Linked DNA regions of Homo sapiens: regions 2 and 3 are each linked to region 1. The links come from fine-mapping of genetic effects on gene expression. A gene starts in region 1. Each other region holds a variant in brackets. All regions are shown on one strand. Distances are from middle to middle.

Region 1 (5,755 bases):
ACGGTGCCTGGCCACACGTGTCTTTTAAAAGTAGTAAATGCCTCCCTCCCACCCCATGAAAGGCTAGAATGGGCTGCTCTGATACAGGCATCCACTGTGACCCACTCTGCATGCTCCCTCAAAGGCCTGGAACTTTCTCCAGCGGAGTTAAGCGCTGCTCTCTCCCTGGGCAGTGGGAGAGGTAGGAGAGAGGATGCTGTGTCACCTCAGTATGAACAAGTCCACATCCTCTTCCTCCAGGACAGCAGGAGGGAGGCAAGGAGCGGTGCTGAGGGTCAGGCCACCCAGCCACCTCTGTGACCCTTGCAATGACAGGGAGTGGACAAACCACCTACCTCCTGGCTAAGGCATGACCCAACCACACATCCAGGAAAGCACGTGAGACAGCCCACCCTGGCCCAGCCACGCAGAAGGCCTCGTCCTACCTCTTCTCTCCCGCAGTGGGCCCAGCGAAGTCCAGGCACAGGGCAGGGTAGGGGAGGCCCTCACAGGAGCCCAATTCCTCATCTTCCCAGTAAGGACCACCCCCACGAATCCCTCAGCACCAACCAGAGCCCCTGTTCTCAGCTTTGCCCCATCTGATCTCGCCAAAGACACAGTGTGCTGGCCCTGACTCCAGGCTCAAATGTGGCAGCAGACCACACTGTGGTGGGCACAACTGGATGCCTGAGGACCGATCTGCTGGGTTATTCAGGATAGACAGCCCCTCTGGGCCCTGTCTCCTCTGTAAACTGGAGGTGAACGGCACCTACCATATGGAGCGGTGGAGGAGGTGGGGAATGGGTCAAATCAGTAGCTATAAATTGTAGAGTGGGGTGCATGTCCCCAGTGCAACCATCGAGTCGGACTTTTGTCTCTTTTGAAAAATTTATTTATTTTGAGACAGGGTCTCATTCCGTCACCCAGGCTGGATGGAGTGCAGTGGCACAGTCATGGCTCACTACAGCCTCCAACTCCTGGGCTCAAAGGATCCTCCTGCCTTAGCCTCCCAAGTAGCTGGGACTACAGGCACACGCCACCACACCCAGCTAATTTTTGTATTTTTTGTAGAGACGGGGTTTCGCCATGTTGCCCAGGCTGGTCTCGAACCCCTGGGCTCAAGTGATCCGCCCACCTTGGCCTCCCAAAGTGCTGGGATCTTTTCTCCTTTTGAGACTCTCCTGTGGCCTGTCCAGAGGCCACACTCCAGCCCAATTTCTACTTCCTGAGCTCTCCCTACACCAACCTCCATGCCCTCAAGCAAACCTCCCAGACCTACTCCTGGCAAAGATGTTCTGCAATACCACCTTCACCCTCATCACCCGGAAAACAGCTGCTAGTAAACAGCTGCTTCTTTCATGAAAACAGCACTAGAAGGCTGGGCGTCGGGCTCATGCTTGTAATCCCAGCACTTTAGAAGGCTGAGGCGGTAAGATTGCCTGAGCTCATGAGTTCAAGGTTGCAGTGAGCTATGACCACTCCACTGCACTCCAGCATGGGTGACAGAGTGAGATCCTGTCTTAAAAAAAGAAAAGAGGCTGGGGGTGGTGGCTCACACCTATAATCCCAGCACTTTGGGAGGTCGAGGTGGATGGATCATTTGAGGTCAGGAGTTTGAGACCAGCCTGGCCACCATGGTGAAACCCCGTCTTTACTTTACTAAAAATACAAAAATTAGCCAGGTGTAGTGGTGTGGTAACTGTAGTCCCAGCTACTCAGGAGGCTGAGGGAGGAGGACGGCTTAAGCCCAGGAGGCAAAGGTTACAGTGACCCAAGAGGGTCACTACTGCACTCCAGCCTGGGCAACAGACAGAGACTCCATCTCAAAAAATAATAATAAATAAAAATAAGAAAGAAAGAAAATACCACCGGAGACGCTACCTCCACAAAGCTCACACCTGCCCTTCTGAGGGCCACAGAATCTGGAACAATCTGAGAGCCTCCCCTCCCCCACACTCTGCACCAGGAGCTGCAGGTAAACCTTGGGAACCCAGGGCCTCTGGAGGTGGGAAGACAGACAACTGGGTGGGAAGCGAAGGCTGTGCAGCAAACGCCTTCCTGAGCTGCAGCCCCCTCAGCCTCCTGCACTTCCTGCAGGGCTGGCACTTGGCACTTCCTCTCAAATTGGCTGGCTTGTCACTTTTATGTCTCCTTTGGCCTCGTCTAAGACAATAATACAGTCATGATGTCACAATGGCAATGTCCTATTTACAGATTTTTTTTTCCCCAAGACAAATACTTAGATTTTAAACATGTCCTTCCACACACAGGCTAGAACCCCCTGTGATTCCCTGGGCAGCCCGGTCCTCACTCCGAGAAACACTGGTGTTGAGTCCACCCCTCACAGCCTCCATCTGCAAGATGGTGATGCTAGTGAAGGCCCACGGTCACATAGCCCTTCCAGACACATCCAGCCCACACTGGCTGCCCGTCCAGGCCTTGGACCCAGGGCCCCTGTCGTAGGTGGCTCGGCCTGGCCCCTACCTCCAGGCCCTTGGCTTCCCCCTCCCGGCCCTCCCTTCTCCTCTCCAGCAATGGCTGTCCAGGGAGGAAGCCCCCAGCCACAGATGTCCCTGCCCTTGACCCTGATGTGATGACACAGAGAAGAGGCAACTGCCTCACCCTCTGTACATACATGTTTAGATGAATGCATAGAAAGCTCCAGAAAGACCCGCTCCAGAAAGACCCACTCCAGATGGCCCATGCGGTCCCTGGGGGATAGAGGAGAGGCATTGCAGGGAAAGGGAAACCAGTCTGCTTTTTGGAGGCATCTTGGTTTCCTGACCCTCAGGCATGCACTCCTTTCAGAGGTTTTGTTTGTTTTTTGTTTTATAATTTCATAAAATTAGTTGAATTGGCCTTCCCTTGCCAATGTTTCCTTTCATTGAGAAAAGTCATGTGTGCTTGTAAATGTAAAATTACACCCTCGAGAAGGAGTGTGGACATTTGAGAGTCTGTGGTTCCTAGAATTCCAGATGGAACGGGCCACATGTACAACATTGTGGTCACAACCGCACTTTCTTGTCAGGCTGGGAAAAGCCAGTGACAAGTCGCCTCTGGTCCCCTGTTGAAGGGCCGCCTCTCCCAGCCATCTGCCCAGTAGGCTCACGGAGCCTCCTACTCCCCCAGCCCAGACCCTGCCCAGTGCACTCCCAGGCCAGGCTGCCGGGTGAGCTGCTTCCCACCCACTGTCCAGCCCCGTCCCCTGGGGCTCAAGCCACTAGGACTGGTGACACTCCATCCCCACACCCCACTTTTACCTGGCTCTCCTCCCCGGCCCCAGCAGCCGGCCAGGGTCTGCAGGGAGGTGGCCCGGCCCCCGCCTGCCCTTCCTCAGACGCGCCCAGGCTCACCCATCCGAAGGCTCCTTCCACGCTACCTAATGAGAGTGAGTCACATCTGGGACCCACCACTTCCTGCTCCGGCAGCGGCAGCAGCGGCGGCGGCGGCAGCAAGGCTAAGGCACAGCCCACAGCCCAGCCTCTCGGGGTGTGCAGGGCCCCCTCCCCCAGCCACAGTGCTGCTCTCCGCAGCCTGGGAGCTGCCAGGCCTGGGAGCTGTCGGGCTCCAATGACTTCATGGAAATTTGAAGCTTGAAGCTGGAACAATTTTGAAAAAATAATAATAAAACAAGCACCAAAAACCTCCATTAGAAGCCCCAAGACAACTGTTCAAAGTGGGGAGCAAATGCATCCTTAGTGAGCAATTAGCAATTAGCGGCCTGGCCTGAGCCTCCTGTGGGCTCTGACGCTCACAGACAGGCCCCCCGCGCCTTCCTGGGACTCAATTTCCCTATCTATGTAGTAAGGTGGCCCCGTCCACCTCTGAGAGGGGCCCAGGAGAGGTCAAAGATCTTCCAGCCCAGCCCACTGCCTCTCCATCTCACCTACGCTCCCATGCTGGGAGCAGGGCAGGGGCAGGCCCATCCTTGGGGCTCCTATTCCAAAATCAGAGTCCCTGGAGAGCCCCCAACATCCCTGGGCACCATGAGGCTGGGAATCAAACCCCAGCACCCCTTCTGCTATGCCAGGCCTCAGTTTCCCCACTGGGATCATGGGGCGCTCAGTGGCGAGGGAGCAGATCAGGAGAGGCTAAGAGGAGAGAGTGGAGACTCCCAAAACAGAGGGGGAGGCCTCCAGCCCGCTGGCCACAGCAGCACCTGGTCCTCAGGGAGCCCTTCTGAGCATGTGACTGGCATCCTGGGATTACGAGCTCCTCAAAGCAATGGTGTACCTCCTCCACCTCCCACATCCAGGGTCAGACACCCCTCTTCTGGTCTTCTAACCCCTGCACCTTCCTCCATCACAGCACCTCTGTGCTGTGACCACTGGTTGCTGGTCTGTCTTTCCTAGGTTATATCCTTGAGGAGGGCAGAGATGGGAGGGCAGCTGTAATATCAACAGCTGTGTCCCCAGCGTCCAGCCCCAGCTGGTCACAGAGTAGACATCCCACACATACTGATCAGGAGGAACTGAACATGTTAGGTGCTGTCTCTGTGCCAGGCCCCATGCAGGGAACTAGCAGGTGATCTAAGGTCTGCCATCTGGTGGAGACAGGCATAGGACTCACACAGGGTTCCAGGCTGCTCCAGAGGCCACAGGAGGGAGTGGGAGACCTCAGGGGATCCTCCCCATCAGGGTCGCCCTCCTATCAGCAAATGTCTCCCTAGCAAATGTCCCAGAGCAGAGAAGGAACAGACATCATCATCATCAAAAGAGGGGAAAGACAAGCCACTGACTAGGAGAAAGTCACATCCTATATGACTGACAAAAGACTCCTCCCTAGCATATATAAAGATCTCCCAGGCTTGGCATGGTGGCTCATGCCTGTAATCCCAGCACTTTGGGAGGCTAAGGTGGGCGGATCACCTGATGTCAGGAGTTTGAAACCAGCCTGGCTAACATGGCAAAATCCCGTTTCTACTAAAAGCACAAAAATTAGCCAGGCGTGGTGGCATGAGCCTGTAATCCCAGCTACTTGGGAGGCTGAGGCAGGAGAATCACTTGAACCTGGGAGGCAGAGGTTGCAGTGAGCCGAGATCACACCACTGCACTCCAGCCTGGGCAACAGAGTGAGACTCTGTCTCAGAAAAAAAAAAAAAAAAAAAGACCTCCCACAAACCAATAAGAAAAAGACAAATGGCCCAATTAAAAGATGAACAAGAGACTTACACAGGTACTTCAACAAAGAGGATGCCAAAATGACCAATAAGCACATGAAAAAGATACTCAACATCATTAGCCACCAGCAAATTAAAACCATATAGAGATTCCACTGTACCACTAGAATGGCTAAAATTAAAATGAAAATACCAAGTGTTGACAAGGAGGAGAAGCAGCTCTTCACTCTCATGTACTGCTAGTGGGAATGTAAAATGGAGCCACCATGATGAAAACTGCCTGGCAGTGTGGACAAAAGCAAACCATATGCTTCCCCAATGACTCAGCAATTCAATCTCAGGTATTTACCCAAAAGAAATGAGTACATGTGTCCACAAATGACTTCTATCCAAGTGTTCAGAGAAGCTTTCATCCTAACAGTCAAACTGCAAACCCAAACATCCTGCAATGAGTAAATGGATAAACAAATTTTCATATATTCACACAACAGAAAATTACTCAGCAGTAAAAAGGAACAGATCACTGCTAACACACAACATGAATGAATATCCAAGATGGCAAGGACAGTGAAAGACCCACCCACAAAAGACACATTCAGCACGTTTCCATTTATATGAAACTTCAGAAATGATGAAACTAATCTACAGTGACAGACA
Region 2 (5,000 bases), 87 kb before region 1:
TCTTTCCTTCTGATAGAACCACTGTACTGAATTTGGTGTATATCACATGCATGTTTTTATAATTACAAGTTCTGCATACATCTGTAAACAATGTATGCTTACACATTTTCATACATAGCTTGTAACAGTAATTGTTCTGCAACTTTTCTTCAGACATTGTTTCTGAATGTTATCCATGTTGATACAATACAATTTTAGCTCATTTACATTACCTGTTATGTAAATATGACACAATTTATTAATCTATTTTCCTTTTAATAGGCATTGGATTATTCCTATTTTTTACTATTTTAAACAATGCTGCAGTAATCTCTTACAAGTCTCCATGTAGACCATACGACAGGAAATTTCTCTGGTATATGCACAGAGAGTAGCAGTTGAGAAGTAGGTTAAAGGCTTTGCTAGCTTTGCTAGATATTGCTAATTGCTCTGCTAAGGATTGTTCCTATTCACCCAATTGCAAGGTATGAAAATCCCATTTCTCTACATTTTTATCAAAACTTGACATTTCAGACAAATGTTGCCAAAGAGAGGCGAAATGCCTTCTAGTTTTTAAATCTATAATTACCCAAGTTCTAGGGAGCTTGAGCTAGTTCTCATGTTCTCAACATTTCACATTTCTTATTCTGTGAGTTACCTGTGATATCACTTATCTATTTCTTTTTTGGATTTTTTGCCTTTTTGCATAGATTTATAGATGCTCTTCATGGAATCCTTAATGTTTTATAAGTTGTGTTTCAAGTACTTTATCTCAGTCTATCGTTAGATTTTTAACTTGGTTCATGGATTTTGTTGAGGTACCAAAATTTATCAACTTAATATCAAATTTATCAAGGTTTTCCTTTAAAATTTATTCATTTTATATCTTTTTAAGAAAGTCTTTTTCTACTCTTGGGTCTTAAAGATGCTTTTCTTTTATCTGAAGTTCTGAAGCTTTGCTTTGTACATTTAAGTCTTTATCTGGAATTCACTTTTGTGTATGGCATGAAGTAGAGCTCAAATTCTATTTTCTCTTTTCAGGTAACAGTTGTCTCAGCACCACCCTTTTGTCATTGACTTATAATGTCACCTCTGTGATATACTAAGATTATTCTATGTACATGGGTCTGTTTCTGGGCTCTGATCTCTTCTGTTGGCTTATTTGTCTGTGTGTCAGACCCACATTGTCTTATTATCACGTTATACAAATAATATCTGGTAAGACGTATCATCTTACTCTGACCTTTTTCAAAACTATTGTGTTCTTAATCGTTCACTCTTCGAGGTAAATTAATGCAATTGGCTTGTTGAATTCCATGGAAATTTTTGTTTTTAAATTTCGATTGGCATTACATCGAATGTATTGATAACTTGAGAGAGGATTGACTCTGAATTCATGAACATAGTATATCTCCTTTATTCAGGCCTTCTGTGACCTTCAGTAATGTTTCACAGTTTTTCCCAAAAGGTTTTGGGTATCTTTTATTAGATTTATTTCTATATACACTATGTTGCTTTTTTGGATAGTATTGTTTTTCTAACTGGTTATTTCTGGCATAGAGACCCCCTTTGTTTTTTCCTTCGTGAACGTATTATTCTCTCCTTTTCCAGTAGATGGCAGTAAAGTACATTGAGCTTGTTATTAAGAATATTTTCTTTACAATGATGTCTTTTTACCCCTTAAAATGATTTATGTATTTAAAGATATTGGTTCTGAAATATTTCTAAATTATCTCCCTTTGTTCCATTTAGGAGGATAAAAAGAAGCGAGATCGAGACCGGGTGGAGAATGAGGCAGAAAAAGATCTCCAGTGTCACGCCCCTGTGAGATTAGACTTGCCTCCTGAGAAGCCTCTCACAAGCTCTTTAGCCAAACAAGAAGGTTGGAATAACTCTGAATTAACTATCCTGAATGAGGAGGCTGAAATCATTATAGCTCAGGAAAATGGTGGGGTTTTAGCTTCTAAGTTGGAGCTTTGTGATTGAATTTTTAAGTTTTTTCTCTCAAACTGCATAAGAGCTTTAAATTAGCTTCAATTTTGGATTAATACTCTCAAACTTCAATATATTTTTAAGATAAATGGAATTTCTGTATGAGATATTTAATAATGGTTGTAGAAAATGATCTAGTAAATAATACTCTCTAGAATACTCCTTTTTAAAATACCCTTTTCCCTTCTTCTTTGCTTTAGAAGTAGAACAGACACCCCTTCAAGAAGCTTTGAATCAACTGATGAGACAATTGCAGAGGTAAATGTTTTTCCAATATTTTTATAACATAGAAATTAAAATGGTAGATGTGTAGGATCCAAACCACATTTGTGCCTAACTCCAAACATAC[G/T]TGATTTTAAAGTGAATGATAAATATTTTGCCTGGCAGCAGAAGTACTCCAAGAGGCTAGGCTAACTTTTAGATATTCTTTATTTGGTTTGTTTCCCTGGCAACTTGAAGGGTGTTACATAATACTTTTAATGACAAATTTCTGTCTCTAAAGTAATTTCTGATGTTAAAACTTTAAGCCAGGAATAAACAATACAGATATTTCCACTTTGCTAATAGATGGAAATACCTTCTATGTATTTGTACAATGCTTATCATGCCACAAATGTTTAGCAATTATTAAGTATGGGAGAAAAAATAAAACACCATAAATAGGAATTATGGCCTTCTTTTAAATGCAGAAATTGGTTCTAAAAATTTCAGTGCCTAGATTAAGCTACTGTTGAGTTCTTAAAAGGGAAAAGAATAACTCAATCTTTATTAAAATATTTATTTTGGGCCGGGTGTGGTGGCTCACGCCTGTAGTCCCAGCACTTTGGGAGGCCGAGGCGGGCAGATCACGAGGTCAGGAGATTGAGACCATCCTGGCTAACATGGTGAAACCCCATCTGTACTTAAAAAAAAAAAAAAAAAAATTGCCAGGCATGGTGATGGGCGCCTGTAGTCCCAGCTACTTGGGAGGCTGAGGCAGGAGAATGGTGTGAACCCAGGAGATGGAGCTTGCAGTGAGCCGAGATTGCACCACTGCACTCCAGCCTGGGCAACAGAGCAAGATTCCGTCTCAAAAAATAAATAAATAAATAAATAAAATATATTTATTTTGATATCTCTCTACTCAGAGTTTAAATTTTCAGCTCAAAGATATTTCCATTATTTGCAAAGGGTTTATGGTTGTAGATCATACATTTTTACAGTGGACTTTCTTTCATTGTATTGAACTTAAGTCAACCCAGAACACATTGTAAATAATTTTTCTCTAATGTAATCTGTATTCAATGCCTGTTCAGGTTTGCAGTTAAGATCAGAAGTTAACCGAGTATAGTAGCTCACACCTGTAATCCCAACACTTTGGGAGGCTGAGGTGGGAGGATCAGTTGAGGCCAGGAGTTTAAGACCAGCCTGGGCAACATAGTGAGACCCCATCTCTACAAAAAAATAAAAATTATCCTAGTGTGGTTGCACACACCTGTAGTCCCAGCTCCAGAGACTGAGGTGGAAGGATCACTTGAGCCCAAGAGGTTGAGGCTACAGTGAGCTGTGATAGCACCATTGCACTCCAGCCTGGGCAACAGAATGAGATCTTTTCTAAAAAAAAAAAAAAAAGAACTTACTGATCTCTCTTCTTTTTTGGTGTTTGAGAAAAATTACATCTAGTCTTTATATTTAAATAACTTGTTCATTACTTCACTACTTGTCCGAAAGGAGTGAATAGGTATTGGGTATTCCATTGCAATTTACAAGGTGTGACTGTAAAATGTCATGGCTGCCTTAGAGTTTTTCTTGCAACGTAAGGCCAGAATGTAGGTTAATGATGTCACCTTAAAAGAAATGACTTAATTAAAAGAAGACATTCAAATGGCCAACAGGTATATGAAAAAATGCTCACCATCACTAATAATCAGAGAAATGCAAGTCAAAATCACCTCACCCCAATTAGAATGCCTGTTATCAAAAGACAAAAAAAAAAAAAAAACAAAGCTGGCAAGAATGTGGTAGAGAAAGGGAAATTGTATATACTGTTGGTGGAAATGTAAATTAGTATAGCCATTATGGACAACAAGTTCCTTAAAAAATTAAAAATAGAACTACCATATGATCCAGCAATTCAGCTACTGGGTATATATCCAAAGGTAATGAAATCAGTATGTCCAGGAGATACCTGTACTCTTGTGTTAATTGCAGTGCTATTCATAGTAGCCAAGATGGAATCAGTCTAAGTGCCCATCAATGGATGAATGCATTTTTTAAAATGTGGTATGTATACACAATGGAGTATTATTCCACCATTAAAAAGAATGAAATACTATCATTTGTAACAACATGGATGAACCTAGAGGACATCATGTTAAATAAGCCAAACACAGAAGAACAAATACTGCACGATCCTTTTGTAGTTCATAAGTGTAATGATTGGGTTTTCATGTTCCTTTGTGAGATATACCGCCCTCAAACTTTGTTACAACATCAGCACATTACCCATCTGATGTGAAGACAGAAAATATGGTGAGGGCACAAATATGACATCATCTCACTCATGTGGGATCTTAAAAAGTTGATTCATAGAAGTAGAGAGTAGAACAGTGGTTACCAGAGGCAAGGGAAAGGTAGAGGTTGGTCAGCAGGTACAGAATTACAGTTAGATGGGAGGAATAAGCTCTGGTCTTCTGTTGCACAGTAAGGTGACAGCAGTCCACAACCATTTATTATATACATCAGAATAGCTAAAAGAAAGGATTTTGAATGTTCTTATTCCAAAGAAATAACAAGTGTTTGGGGTGATAAATATGCTAATTACCTTGATTTGATTATTACACCTTATACATACATACATACATACATACAAGGATACACCGAAGTATCCTTGTATATATGTATGTTAGTATATATGTGTCGAAACATCACACTGTACCCTCTAAATATGTGCAATTATTATATGTCAATTAGAAACAAAGTCTTAATGAAAAAACACTTCAGGAAGTATTTCTTAGTCTAAAGACATTGGGAATTAGAACCCAGAGCCA
Region 3 (5,000 bases), 74 kb before region 1:
TACTCTAAAGTAAAGAATAAATTGGCTTGTCCAGAAATACTAAAGAGAAGTTTAATTACATTTTCTAATTTGATGAAAGTTAATTGCTCTCTGAGTTCATTTTGGCTATATTTGTTGAGCATATTTTCTTCAGCTTTAAGAAGAGTATAGAAAATTTACAAGGACCTGAAAACTTATAATATATATACCTATTATAGATGAGGTTTTTCCCATTTGAGGGAGTGTCCTGGTGTGTGTTGATTCCAGGGAAAGGAACCATGTATATTAAAATTTACTATGTATTCAACCGCCACAAACTTAATTGGTTTAGATAATATCTGTTTTACCTCTACTTTGTTTTACATAACCACAGTAGTGCTCACCTGACCTATAAGGGTTAGACCCTAATTGGTTACCCTAATTAGTTATTTTCCTAAAAATAAAATAAGATAGTGTCTTTATGGCCAGGTGTGGTGGCTTACACCTGTAATCCCAGCACTTCCGGAGGCCGAGGCAGGTGGATCACAAGGTCAGGAGATCAAGACCATCCTGGGTAACACAGTGAAACCCCGTCTCTACTGAAAATACAAAAAAATTGGCTGAGTGTGGTGGCGGATGCCTGTAGTCCCAGCTACTCGGGAGGCTGAGGCCGGAGAATGGCGTGAACCCAGGAGGCAGAGCTTGCGACAGAGTGAGACTCCATCTCAAAAAAAAAAAAAAAAAAAAAGACAGTGTCTTTACTTAGTCCCTTTTTTCATCCACATATTGATAAGCAGAGATTTATGAAGAATATCAGTGTTTAGTGCTCTTTACTGTTGAGTTTATAGGTAATATTCCACTTTCTCCAAAGAATCTGAATTACATTCTCTCTTATTTCGAGAAATAGAAACTTTTCCCAACTTTTTATCTGGTGAAAATTAGGCTAAAACCGTTTATTTCAGCATATTTCTGACCTTACCATTGCTTAATGGGAAAGAATTTCACAGTTTTTTGTTTTTTGTTTTTTTTCTGCATGATTTTCCTCTGATCTTTCTCTTACAGTAAGAAGAGTAGAAGTGTGTCCCCAGAGTGTTTTTAAGCAGGTTAGGGTTTATCATAATTGAAAGGAATTGGTATCTTAGCTCTTTAGAATTTCTACGTTGCCACTTTTTTCTAGGGAAAGCTCAACGGCCTAAAGTAATATTTATTCAGTTCATTTGGCAGTTGAAGTAAAATGTGTGTGTGTGTGTGTGTGTGTGTGTGTGTGTGTGTGTGAAAAGTGTGCAGGAAGACTCAGCTTTTTGAATGACCAGTGCCATCACCCACAGTTCAGTAAAGCCCAGCACATTATGTTAAGATTTAAGGAATCTACAAATTGGCTTAATAGATCAGTCCTGTGTTCATTAGAACAATTCAGTACTCTTGCCAGTTCATAGGCCCATTATCTGGCCAATTATAGGCCAAATGGTCACTTAGTTTGAGTATATATAGTAATCTAGTATCTCCGTTCACTTGCGTCCCATCCCCCCAAATACATATTTAATTTTTTTTTTTTTTTTTTGAGACCGAGTCTCACTCTGTTGCTCAGGCTGGAGTGCAGTGGCATGATCTTGGCTCACTGCAACCTCCACGTTCAGGGTTCAAGCAATTGTTGTGCCTCAGCCTCCCAAGTAGCTGGGACTACAGGGGTGTGTCACCACACCCAGCTAATTTTTTTGTATTTTTAGTAGAGACGGGGTTTCACCATGTTGCCCTGACCAGTCTCAAACTCCTGGGCTCAAGCAGTCCACCTGCCTCGGCCTCCCAAAGTGCTAGAATTATAAGGGTGAGCCACTATGCCCAGCCTAGTAATTCTTAATGGCCTGGAAGCTTTTCCAAATATCTGTAACAAAGGTCTTTAATCTAGGGTCCTTTGGATACCATAATGAGCCTTTAGAGGGACCAAGAACCTACTAAAATTACATGAAGACTTTTGTGTTCAGCTGTGTGTGTGTGTGTGTGTGTGTGTGTGTGTGTGTGTGTGTGTACTTAAGGTCTGGTCCCATAGCTTTCATCAGATGCTTAGAGATCCAAGACCTGGCATATTTACAGTCATGGCCCAAACTGAAGATCCACATATACTTCATCCACTTTAATACCAAATTTATTGCGACCCTTCACTCAGTCTTACGTACTTGTACATAGAACTCAGTCTACTTATTTTTGTTCTATTTAAGTGTTCTAACCTGTCATCACTATTAAATAGTGGAATTTGAATTTTTTTTGTTTTTTAAACAAATTTGTAGGGGGCAGATTCTCTTTTCTTGGGTTTTTCTTTCAACTTAGTAAGGCCTTGGCATAATGAATCGCACATTTATAGATGTAAAAATTACTTAACTATGAAAGCATGCAGTGGGGTCAAGTTCTCCAGCACATAGCGGACTTGGAAATTTAAGCCAAAAAGACAGTTTTGGTAATTTGGCTACTCCAGTTACATGTTTTAACTCCTTGAGGTTGTATGGTTTATTTCACATTGGCATGGTTTTGCAACATTCTGCAAATTATGTTTAGTTTATGATAGTATCCAAACACATAAAAGTAGTGTAAATGTTTTAACATTTTTTGCTCAGTTAATGTGAATTTGGCAGGAAATACTGCGATAATTTAGGACTGCTCCGTTTTCAGTCAAGATCTGAAATAAAATGTTCAATTCCTAAATGGAAATTTAAGATGTTTGTTTTAAAGCTAGGAGTAATATTTTTTTTATTTACATGAACTACTCAGCTAAAATCATTACATATGAAATAGAAGTATTTTCTTCACATTTTTTTTATGTGCAGTAAGATTATACTGAAGAAACCCATTTAAAAGTTTCATTCTGGGATCTACAGTTTATATACAG[G/T]TACTATAAAATATTTAAGAATTTGGGAAATAATATAGCATATTTAAATACATTTAGCAGTATTTGTTTTGTTGGTGAGTCTTAAAACTTAATAAATTACTGTTAGTATTGTTTAGTAAATAAAGAAAGGGATGTTGCTTTTTAAATTTTTAGAGGACCTGTATATTTTCAACCTGGGGGTGCAGGGTAGTTTGTTTTGCATTAATGCATTTTCTCCCTTAATGTTCTTTCTGCAGGATAACTTCAAACTAATGTGTACTAATGCCATGATTTACAATAAACCAGAGACCATTTATTATAAAGCTGCAAAGAAGCTGTTGCACTCAGGAATGAAAATTCTTAGCCAGGTAAAGGAAACTCTTTGTCATAAATAATAGTTATTAAAATCTGTGTCGCTGTTTGTTGGCCATAGTAATACAGATACAATACAGTATTGATTTTATTTTATTAGCAGGTTATATTATATTAAATAAAGTAGAAAATACTAAATGAAAAAAATTTTAATAAAGAGAAGAAAATTAAGACAGGAAAATTCTTACTTGGAATCAATACAAATAAATATTGGCATTCACTTGTAATTATCTCTTAAGACATAAAACATCAGCTTGAAACATCAGCCTGAATTCCAGGATAAGACTGGCTGAATTGTGAGAACTCTGAAGAGGAAAGCTCTCTGTTTGCATTTGTAGGGGTGGAATCTAACGTTGGTCAGTCCTGTCAGAAGCACAGAATTTCTAGTAAGAAAATACAGTCATGCGCTGCATAATACTGTATATACAGACTGCATATACAGTGGTGGTTCCATAAGATTGTAATACTGTATTTTTACTGTACTTTTGTTATATTTAAATGCACACATACTTAGCATTGTGTTACAGCTGTCTGCAGTATTCAGTATGGTAACATGCTGTATAGGTTCCTAGCCTAGGAGCAGTAGGCTATATCATTTAGCCAGGTGTCTGATAGGCTATACCATCTAGGTTTGTGTGAGTGTACTCATTGATGGTCACACAACAAAATTGCCTAACAGTACATTTCTCAGAACGCGTCCCTTCATTAAGCTACATGTGACTATATACAAATGAGAGAAAATTTGAAACTGTCTCAAAACCACCTCTCCACAACAGCAGACTCTTCCTTAAAGGGTAAGAATTAGTGCATAGTAAGTCATTTGAGGTCAGAGAAGTGTGTGCGTAGGCACAGACACATCATCATCAAACTGCAGGAAAGAGCGTAAACATGAGATATTATACACAGTGGCAAAAAATTACTAGTGTCCCCAGGACGACAGTTGATAAAAGGCTTTGAAGGGTAAGCTGAGATGATCACTGTGCATCCGCTGGAGAAAATAACTCGCAAGATAAGCCATATCTTTTGAGGTTTTTCTCACCACTCTGAGTGGGAGAAACCTATGTAAGAGACTACTTTAGGGAACGAATCAAGGGTGATCCTGGCACCATACCATACCATGGCAGGCAGGCAGAAGAGAGTTTTCATTTTAGCTCTCTTCCACTAACTTGTGGACTTTGGGCAAGACATTAACTACCCTGGGACTCAGTGTTCTCATCCCTAAAGAAGGGTTTAGTCTGTGGTCTCCAAGATGATTTCTAGCATTACTGTTCTGATTCTAGATAAGAGGTAGAGTAGAGAGGATACTATGAAAAAGAACCACAAGATAGGACAGGGATTTTGCAAAGAAGAAATGAGTGGGTATAAGACACTGGTAGAAGGAGAAAGGAATCAGAGTCCAGAGCTTGAGCTCACATTCAGGGGAGTTAAAGGATGATAAAAATGAGTCGTGCATCTGCATGTGGTTTTTCGATTTTTATGGTGATTCATTTTTCTGTATTACAGTTTTACATTTAAAGAAATGCCTTGGTGTGCAGATGTCTGAGTGTCTGTATGCTTGGCTGAGAGATTCTTGGATTCACTTAACTAGAGAAAGAAAAACATGTTTGGATTGTTGATTATTCTTGCGCTCCTAATATTTAGACAACTTTGGTTCCCACCCTTTCCTAAAGACTTGGGAAACTAATGGAAGCCAGTTACCCATCTTTGACAACATTCGCAGAGGAAAGAGGAATATGAAATGTTTACCCATTCTTTGCAGGAAGACTCTCAGAATCTAGAACCATGCCATATTCCAGGTTTAAAGACATGG

Evidence for each region.
Region 2: its variant is fine-mapped to the expression of ADCY7 in whole blood (TOPMed, PIP above 0.99).
Region 3: its variant is fine-mapped to the expression of ADCY7 in whole blood (TOPMed, PIP above 0.99).

What each region holds. Positions count from the first base shown.
Region 1 is chr16:50,264,165-50,269,919 of GRCh38, reverse strand. It overlaps ADCY7 (adenylate cyclase 7), which reads right to left and starts at 3,369. Exons shown (of 26, transcript NM_001114.5): 1 at 3,240-3,369. RefSeq lists enhancers at 3,597-3,686, 3,632-4,225, 5,293-5,472.
Region 2 is chr16:50,351,654-50,356,653 of GRCh38, reverse strand. BRD7 (bromodomain containing 7) reads left to right here. Exons shown (of 17, transcript NM_013263.5): 3 at 1,732-1,861; 4 at 2,172-2,229. LOC124903785 (small nucleolar RNA U13) reads left to right here and starts at 4,362; the gene lies at 4,362-4,465. The variant G/T (reference allele first, on the strand shown) is at 2,321.
Region 3 is chr16:50,338,162-50,343,161 of GRCh38, reverse strand. It overlaps BRD7 (bromodomain containing 7), which reads left to right. Exons shown (of 17, transcript NM_013263.5): 6 at 3,076-3,186. Among named protein-coding and RNA genes, the nearest start is that of BRD7, 28 kb to the left of the region's middle. The variant G/T (reference allele first, on the strand shown) is at 2,840.